Homo sapiens: one gene and its partner. The protein of the gene in region 2 interacts with the protein of the main gene of each other region in a pairwise test. Each region holds a gene or a part of one and is shown on either strand. Other genes may lie near its edges. The genes, in order: RASGRP3 and SULT1C2.

Region 1 (3,824 bases), about 75 Mb from region 2:
TATCCACAGTGCCTGGCATATACACAAGCTCAATAAATATTTGTTAAAAAGAATATGAATAAATACGCTTACAAGTAAATAACACAACTTGAGTATTAATATACCTGAAAATGACATTTTCAAATATTAAAGAAGAAATTAGAGTACCCATACAGTTACACATAACATAACGACGGGGATACATTCTAAGAAATTCATCATTCGATGATTTCATGATTGTGCAAACATCATAGAGTGCACTCACACAAGCCTAGATGCTGTAGCCTACTACACACCTAGGCTATATGATACAGCCTATTGGTCCTGGACTACAAACCTGTACAGCATGTCGCTGTACTGAATTCTATAGGCAACTGTAACACAATGGTGGGTATTTGTGTATCTAAACATAGAAAAGGTGCAGTAAAAATATGGTATAAAAGATAAAAAGTGGTACACCTGTATAGGGTGCTTATCATGAATGGAGCTTGCAAGACTGGAAGCCGCTCAGGGTGAGTCAGTGAGTGAGTGGAGAGTGAATGTGAAGGCCTAGGACATTAGTGTACAATATTGTAGACTTTATAGACACTATACACTTAGGCTACACCAAATTATAAAAATATTTTTCTTTCCTCAATAATAAATTAACCTTAGCTTACTGTAACTTTTATACTTTATAAACCTTTAAAAACTTTTTAGTCCTTTTGTAATATACACCTTAAAACACAAATATATTGCACTGCTGTAAAAAATATTTTCTTTCTTAATATCTTTATTCTACAAACTTACTCTATTTAAATTTTTTTTTTTACTTTTTAAACTTTTTTCGTTAAAAGCAAAGACAGAAACACACGCATTAGCCTAGGTTTAGGTTTACACAGGCTCAGGATCATCAATATCACTGTCTTCCACCTCTATCTCTTGTTCCCCTGGAAGGTGTCTGCAAGAGCAGTAACAGGCATGGAGCTGGTCATCTCCTATGATAACAATCCCTTCTTCTGGAATAGGTCCTGAAGAACCTGCTGAGGCTGTTTTACAGTTAACTTTTTAATTTTTTAAGTAAAAGGAGTACTCTAAAATTACAACAAAAATAATATAGTAAATACATAAACCAATAACAGTCATTTATTCTCAAGTATCATATACTATACATAACTGTGCACACTAGACTTTTATATGACTCACACAACAGCAGGTTTGTTTACACCACCATCACTACAAACACATGAGTAATGCATTGGGTTACAACATTATGCTGGCTACCATGTCACCAGGCAATAGGAATTTTTCAATCCCACTATAATCTTATTGGACCACTGTCACATATGCAGTCCTTCATTGACTGAAACGTTGTTATGTGGTGCATAACTGTATAAGGCATTAATCCTAAATACAAAATCTTTTTGGTTAAAATAGTGTTTCTCGGCCAGGCGCGGTGGCTCACACCTGTAATCCCAGCACTTTGGGAGGCCGAGGTGGGCGGATCACAAGGTCAGGAGATCAAGACCATCCTGGCTAACACGGCGAAACCCCGTCTCTACTAAAAATACAAAAAATTAGCCAGGCATGTTGGCGGGTTCCCACTACTAGGGAGGCTGAGGCAGGAGAGTGGTGTGAACCCGGGAGGCAGAGCTTGCAGTGAACCGAGATCGTGCCACTGCACTCCAGCCTGGGCAACAGAGCGAGACTCCATCTCAAAACAATGTAGTGTTTCTCTGTACTACCAACTTTAATTATGTATAGTTGCCAGACTATTTGTAATTACAGTTGGCAGTTATTGGTTAATAAGTGTGGAGGAAGGCAAAACTAATCCTGTAAGTGGCTTCTTCTTCAGACCAAAAAAATGCATTCCAGAGCTATAATAAATCAAGTTTCAATTGTTCAGTGTGGAAGTCATCAGAGGCCACTTCTCTCCGTATTTGAGTGTCTATATAACCCCAGCATGGTCCTCTTATTAGGAATTGGTATACATTGAGGGCACAGCTGCAGGGGTGTGCAAAGGAAAGGAGGTGCAAGGATTTTTTTTCTTTAACTGGTTTACGTATCGAAATGCCACTGGAGAAAGCTGCAATGAATTTCGATTAAAGATCTGCTACTTCATGAGGTAAATATATTTACAAATTTAATTTCTTGTAGTTTCTGGTTCTGGAATCGTGGACAATTTCCTTTTCCCCAAGCTGCAGACCTAGTTTGACAACAGACTCTACTCTGATACCCCTCCCACCAACTTTGTTAAAATTGGCTCTCCTCTGTTGGGTGGGGTGGGGGGAACTATCTTTTGGACTAGAGATCAAGTAGTAGTAAATGTGATTACGGAATGAAACTAGCTCTTAGAAAGGGTGGATTTATTTTCTTCTATTCCCTCACCACACCCATTCCCATCTACTCACCATGAATTGAAGGAAGGGTTTCCTCTCAACTGAAAGAGAGGCTATGAGTGGGAGCGGTTTTAGATTGAAGGAGGGCAGAGAGAGGCTCCATGTGATGGATGGGGTTTTGGAGACAGGAGATGGCTAATTTGAAGTGTGGTCCTGGATGGTCCTGGACTTGGTGTTAAATGTAGTCTGTAAAACGGTACAATCGTTTCCATAGATAACCAACTTGCAATCTTCCAGCTGCCAAAAATATTTGATGCCTTTCAGGTACTGGATTCTGAAGTTTCCTGCAGAGTTTAATTTGGATCTTGGTTTGATTCGTATGACTGAGGAATTTCGGGAAGTAGCTAGTCAACTAGGATATGAAAAACACGTCAGCCTCATCGACATATCCAGCATGTAAGAGTGGCACCGACGTCTTTCACACCCAATAAGTCCACCACTTAGGGGAGGAAGTAGTGATCACCCCACTTGTTCTGAGTCCATCCCACTCCTGAATCCAGGTTTGCTTCTGTGAGGAAAGCCTTGCTGCAGTGAGCGCAAGCCGTATGGGACACAGCTCATCTCTCCAAGCTTCAGTTTTTTTTATTTGTAAAATGTGGACGATACCTTTCTCATGAGATTATTATGAACATTCAATAAGGACACAAGATAGCACATGAAAGGATTTGGCATGCAATAGATGCTCAGTGTTAGTTACTGAGTCTGAATCTACTTAATGTCTCTTACACCTTCACTGATTAAAGTGTGGTCTGCAGACCAGCAGCATTGGCGTTACCTGGGAGCTCATTAGGAATGCAGCCTCTAGGCCCCACCTTAAACCTGAATTGGAATCTGCACTTTAAAGATCCCCAAGTGATTCACATGCAAGCTTGAGAAGCTCTGTACCATGGTGCTGCTGAGGTTGGCCTCAGAACAACAGCCTTATGGTGGTTGACCATAGATGTGCCAGGAGCTGGTTAGCTCAGTTATTAGGTAACCGGTGCAATTAGGCCACTTTCATATCAACTAGGTAACTTTGCACAGGGAAGACTATTTGATGATCCTAAATATGGCTATCCATCTTGCAAATGTCTGTTCTTGTGTGTTACGTATTCATAGTCTACTCTGTTTTCCACTGTCGATTACTATTGAATACTTCTTCAATAGTAATCAATAGTGAATGATCCAGGAATTATAAGGGATGTTTGGTGAAAATACATATTATTCAGGATCATTCCTAATAAGTCAGAACCTCTGGCAGCGAGGCCCAGGCCTCTGTCTTTATAACAAGCTTTTCAGATAGTTCATGTTATACTAAAGTATGAGAACCACAGCTTCTAGTGGTTTCCATGTGTCTTAAATCACCACCTATATCCTGATAAACTCCCAAATTTATATACTAGCCCCGACCTTTCCTGTATGATCCAGACCTTGCCGGTCACAAAGACACTAAGTAAGAAATTCTGGATGGTTCAGTGCAAAACCTAC
Region 2 (3,824 bases):
TTGGAACTAAGAAATACTGAGGATGAGGCAGTTCTCAACAGTAGTTGTAGTTGAAACTCATGAAGTAGAGCAGGTTTGGGTAAGGGTCAAGACCAAGTTATGAGCAGAAACTGAGTCATCAGAAGTTATAAAGTGGGAGAAAGTTGTAATGGGTGGAGAGACCGGAAGCTGGTTAGCAGAGGAAGCCATGCCTAATAGATATGTGAAAAGCAGCTGAGTCCTGTAAGTGGTGGAGCTTTGGAGCAAAGACACATCCCTCCTGCTGCTGAGTCCTGGACCCTGAGATCCAGCGGCCCCTGGGAGGTCTGGACCAGTGGTGGCTCCTCTTCCTAGTTTTCTATGTGATTGCATTTCCTTTATTGTCCATGGTGAATCTTCACAGTAAGCCCCTTTCTTTGGGGCTAGCTTGAGGGACTCTCTGTTCCTTGCAACCAAATACTGGAACAATACCCTAGAAAGCTCTCTTCTACAACAGGATCAAATCCCTGGTTTTATTAGAAACACATATTAGGAATAGTTGAAATGCATTGGCTTGGAATTAATAAAACTCAATATTGTCTGCTAAGAGGCAGACAGGATGTTACGAGACAATCTGAATGTATGATAAAGAGGCCCCACACACCTTTTCTCATGAAGGAGGAAATTGACTGGTCCAAGATAGATTTGGAAACTGTAGAACGATTTGTCATGGGATTTTCTTTCATTTTCTCAAATGACGTCTCCTGGACAATTTTATCTAGCACTGTTTCATCCACCTTCTTTCCCATGAACTGCATCACCTTCCGAATTTCATGCTTTGGGTCCTGCGGCAAGGGTAACATTGGACTGGAATGAATGAGAGTATCATAAAGAAATACTACAATTCTCTGGGATGTCCTTTGAAACAACTTTGAATTTCTCTGCACCTGAAGAACCACTTTAAAATGGTTCTTCTGCAGAGCCTTCACTCACCCTCTTTATGTCCTCATAGAAGAGGAAGAGAATCTGGTGTCTGTCTTTCATCTCCCACCATCCTTTCACGTGGTCAAACCAGGAACCCCAAACCACTGAAATAGACACAGGAAACAGAATAGTCTACATAGGCATCACACAAAACCTTCTGAGTATTAGGGATTTTCCTGAAGTGAGTTAGAGAGAGAAAACCCAAATTCTGTATTAGATATGTCCTAAGGGTTCTGATCTGTTTGATTTTGAGGGTGGTGTAGATGGGGACAGCCTTAGGGTTACTTGCCCCAACATCGTCCCTAAAGTGGCTTCCTATTATGTGCAATCACATAGGGACAAGGACACCTTTTGGAAGAGGATGGCTGTAATTAAAGACTCTGAATCAGGTGGAAGATGTTTGCTGAGGGCTGTGGGCATACACTCAGTGGCCAGCTTGCTCTGCCCAGTCCCAGTCTGTGGTAGGACACACCTGATGAAGTACAGGCATTCTAGGGGATAAAATGCTGCCTGTGGTTCCCTAGACCCAGCCTAGCTGGAGTGAGAATGCAAGGGTGTGAAGGATGTTCCCGTACCTTTTCCATTGATGAAGGTTTCAAAATACTCTTCCCAGGTACCAGGGTCAGGAAGCATGTGGTTCATCCTTTGGAAATGGTAGTAGGAAACCATACAGTCTTTGGCATTTCGAGCTACATAAAGGAACTTTGGGGTAAGAAAAGAGGTGGGTAAAAGATGGTATAAAAAGTGGACTTTCACAGAGTTCCCTTAGGCAGAGCCATCCTGAGGGTTGCTGTGCACTCTGGCTCAGTTCTGCAGTGCTGGCCCTGCGACTTGGCCTTGTGACCTCCCTCTTCTTTCTGTCTCTGCTTTGTCACCAAGTCTGCTCTCTACTTCAAACTCAGTCCTTTTAATTAGCTAATCAATTAGGGATTGGTGAGGATTAGATTGCCTGATTGCCCCTTTGGTATCAGGAGCAAAATCTTTTTCTGTAAACTATGACCTGCCACTTGAATAGGAGACTTCCACAGTATCAACGTAAACTGATGACCCCTCGCGCACCCTCCCAAAGATGCACAGAAGCTTCATGTTTAAGAGTTTGAGCCACACAGCAAGAAAATAGCTCCTATTTTTCTCCTGGCCTCCTCGGCTTGAATGATTTCCATCTCTAATCATTTCAGCTCTGCCCCTACAAACATTCCTTCAAGTTCCACTTTGCCCACAATTTCACATCCCTGCACTCTCCCAACCTTTCATTTTACCAAATCTGACCTTTTATCCAGTACTCAGTTCACATTTTAATGGCATCAATGCCAAATGGGCCTCTTGACTATGCATCTCAGATCTATGACCAGCTATTTCAATGCTGTGCTTTTTTATTCTTTCACTTTTAAGTGGTTCTCAATTGGGGATGATGGGATGATTGTATCCACTAGGGGACATTTGGCAATGTCTGGAGACATTTTTGGTTGCACAGCTTGGAGTAGTGGTGCTACTGGCATCCATGCAGGGGCCAAGTATGCTGTTCAACATTCTACAATACATAGAAGAGTCCCCTTGCTCCCACCCACAAGAAAGAAAAATCTGCCCCAAATGTCAGGAGTGCTGTATTAATTATGTCTTTTATATTCTGTATCTGATGCTTTGACATCCTGGGGCTTTGCTGACTCTGGAGGAACTGCCTACAACACCCCAGAGCCTATACCCCCAACACTTCCACTGTTGGGCTTTTACACACTGGGCCATTATTCACCTGCCCTGACACCCCAGGGTCAGATACCAGACCACTAGGCCAAGCCCCTGTGGCTGAAAGCCTGCTCCAGTGGTTCAAACTGGCCAATCCCAAGCCTGCCTACCTTGCCTCAACTATTCCTTCCCAAAGAAACCACATCAAGGCTCTTGCCCATGTCTTCTACTCACTGTCTCTTCCTCCTGACCTATCCCATTGCTTCCCTGTGAGGCTCTGTGTGACATGCCATGCCTCCTGTTCTAGGTATCTGCGAGGACACACTTCTTCCTTATGACAGTCACCACTGTACCTGCATGTCTTGCCATGCCTGATTATATCAAGTCCCAGGCCCTTTAGAGCAAGTGCTAAGGTTGAGAAACCCTGCTCCTGAAAGCGTTGACTCTGTTACTGTCTACTAAGTCCTACTCCCCATCTTCTCTTCTCCAACTTACCAAGCTGCCAAGCACCAGTAAAGAAGGTTTTAAGAAATGCTGATTTAAAAAATTCCCCTAGTTTCTAAATTTTTTATGCTCAGTTTTCTTCCTCTTCATTGCTGCTTGATAATCCTTTTATTAATCCCTCCCGTGCTCCATCTCTTGGCTCTTAGCTCCAGACACAGGTCTCTCCTCTCTCCTCAAACCTTTACCCTCAAACCTTCCTGTCTGAGTTCACTAATTCTCTATGCAGCTGTTCTGCACTTTATCCTATGCTTGAGTTTTTAATTTCCATGATTTTATATTTTTTTGTTATAGAAATTCCATTTATTTACTTAATATTTCTGTGTCTAAAAGTAGCATCTTATTTCTTTATTTTATTTTTGATACACTTTTTCATTTATTCACACAACTTGAACCTTCTCTTATTTCTAGAGTTGATAATTACATTGTCTGAAGTTCTTGAGGTCTGACTCTTCCATGGGTTCTTTCTGAAGACTGCATCTCATGGTGGCTTGTTCTTTTGTGTATTTTGTAATGTGGGATGGTGAGCTCAAGTGGGGATCCTATGGGGGTCTGAGTTGCAGCTGTGTCCCTCCAGAGCGGACCTGGGAACACTGGCTGTGGGGACCACCTTGTGGAATGTCTCTGCTTGTAGTTTCTTGGACAATGCAAGGAGTGCAATTTTCAATCTCAAACCCCGAGGGAGTAAACCTGTGGCT

What was found.
Region 1: the proteins of SULT1C2 (region 2) and RASGRP3 interact in a two-hybrid assay, tested with the Homo sapiens proteins (one large-scale study listed by BioGRID and IntAct).

The regions. Positions count from the first base shown.
Region 1 is NC_000002.12:33,517,932-33,521,755, forward strand, and holds part of RASGRP3 (ras guanyl-releasing protein 3), read left to right. Parts: intron 1-2,020; coding exon 2,021-2,083; intron 2,084-2,621; coding exon 2,622-2,753; intron 2,754-3,824. UniProt on the Homo sapiens protein: Guanine nucleotide exchange factor (GEF) for Ras and Rap1.
Region 2 is NC_000002.12:108,302,394-108,306,217, reverse strand, and holds part of SULT1C2 (sulfotransferase 1C2), read right to left. Parts: intron 1,645-3,824; coding exon 1,518-1,644; intron 1,047-1,517; coding exon 952-1,046; intron 804-951; coding exon 623-803; intron 1-622. UniProt on the Homo sapiens protein: Sulfotransferase that utilizes 3'-phospho-5'-adenylyl sulfate (PAPS) to catalyze the sulfate conjugation of phenolic compounds. Does not transfer sulfate to steroids, dopamine, acetaminophen, or alpha-naphthol.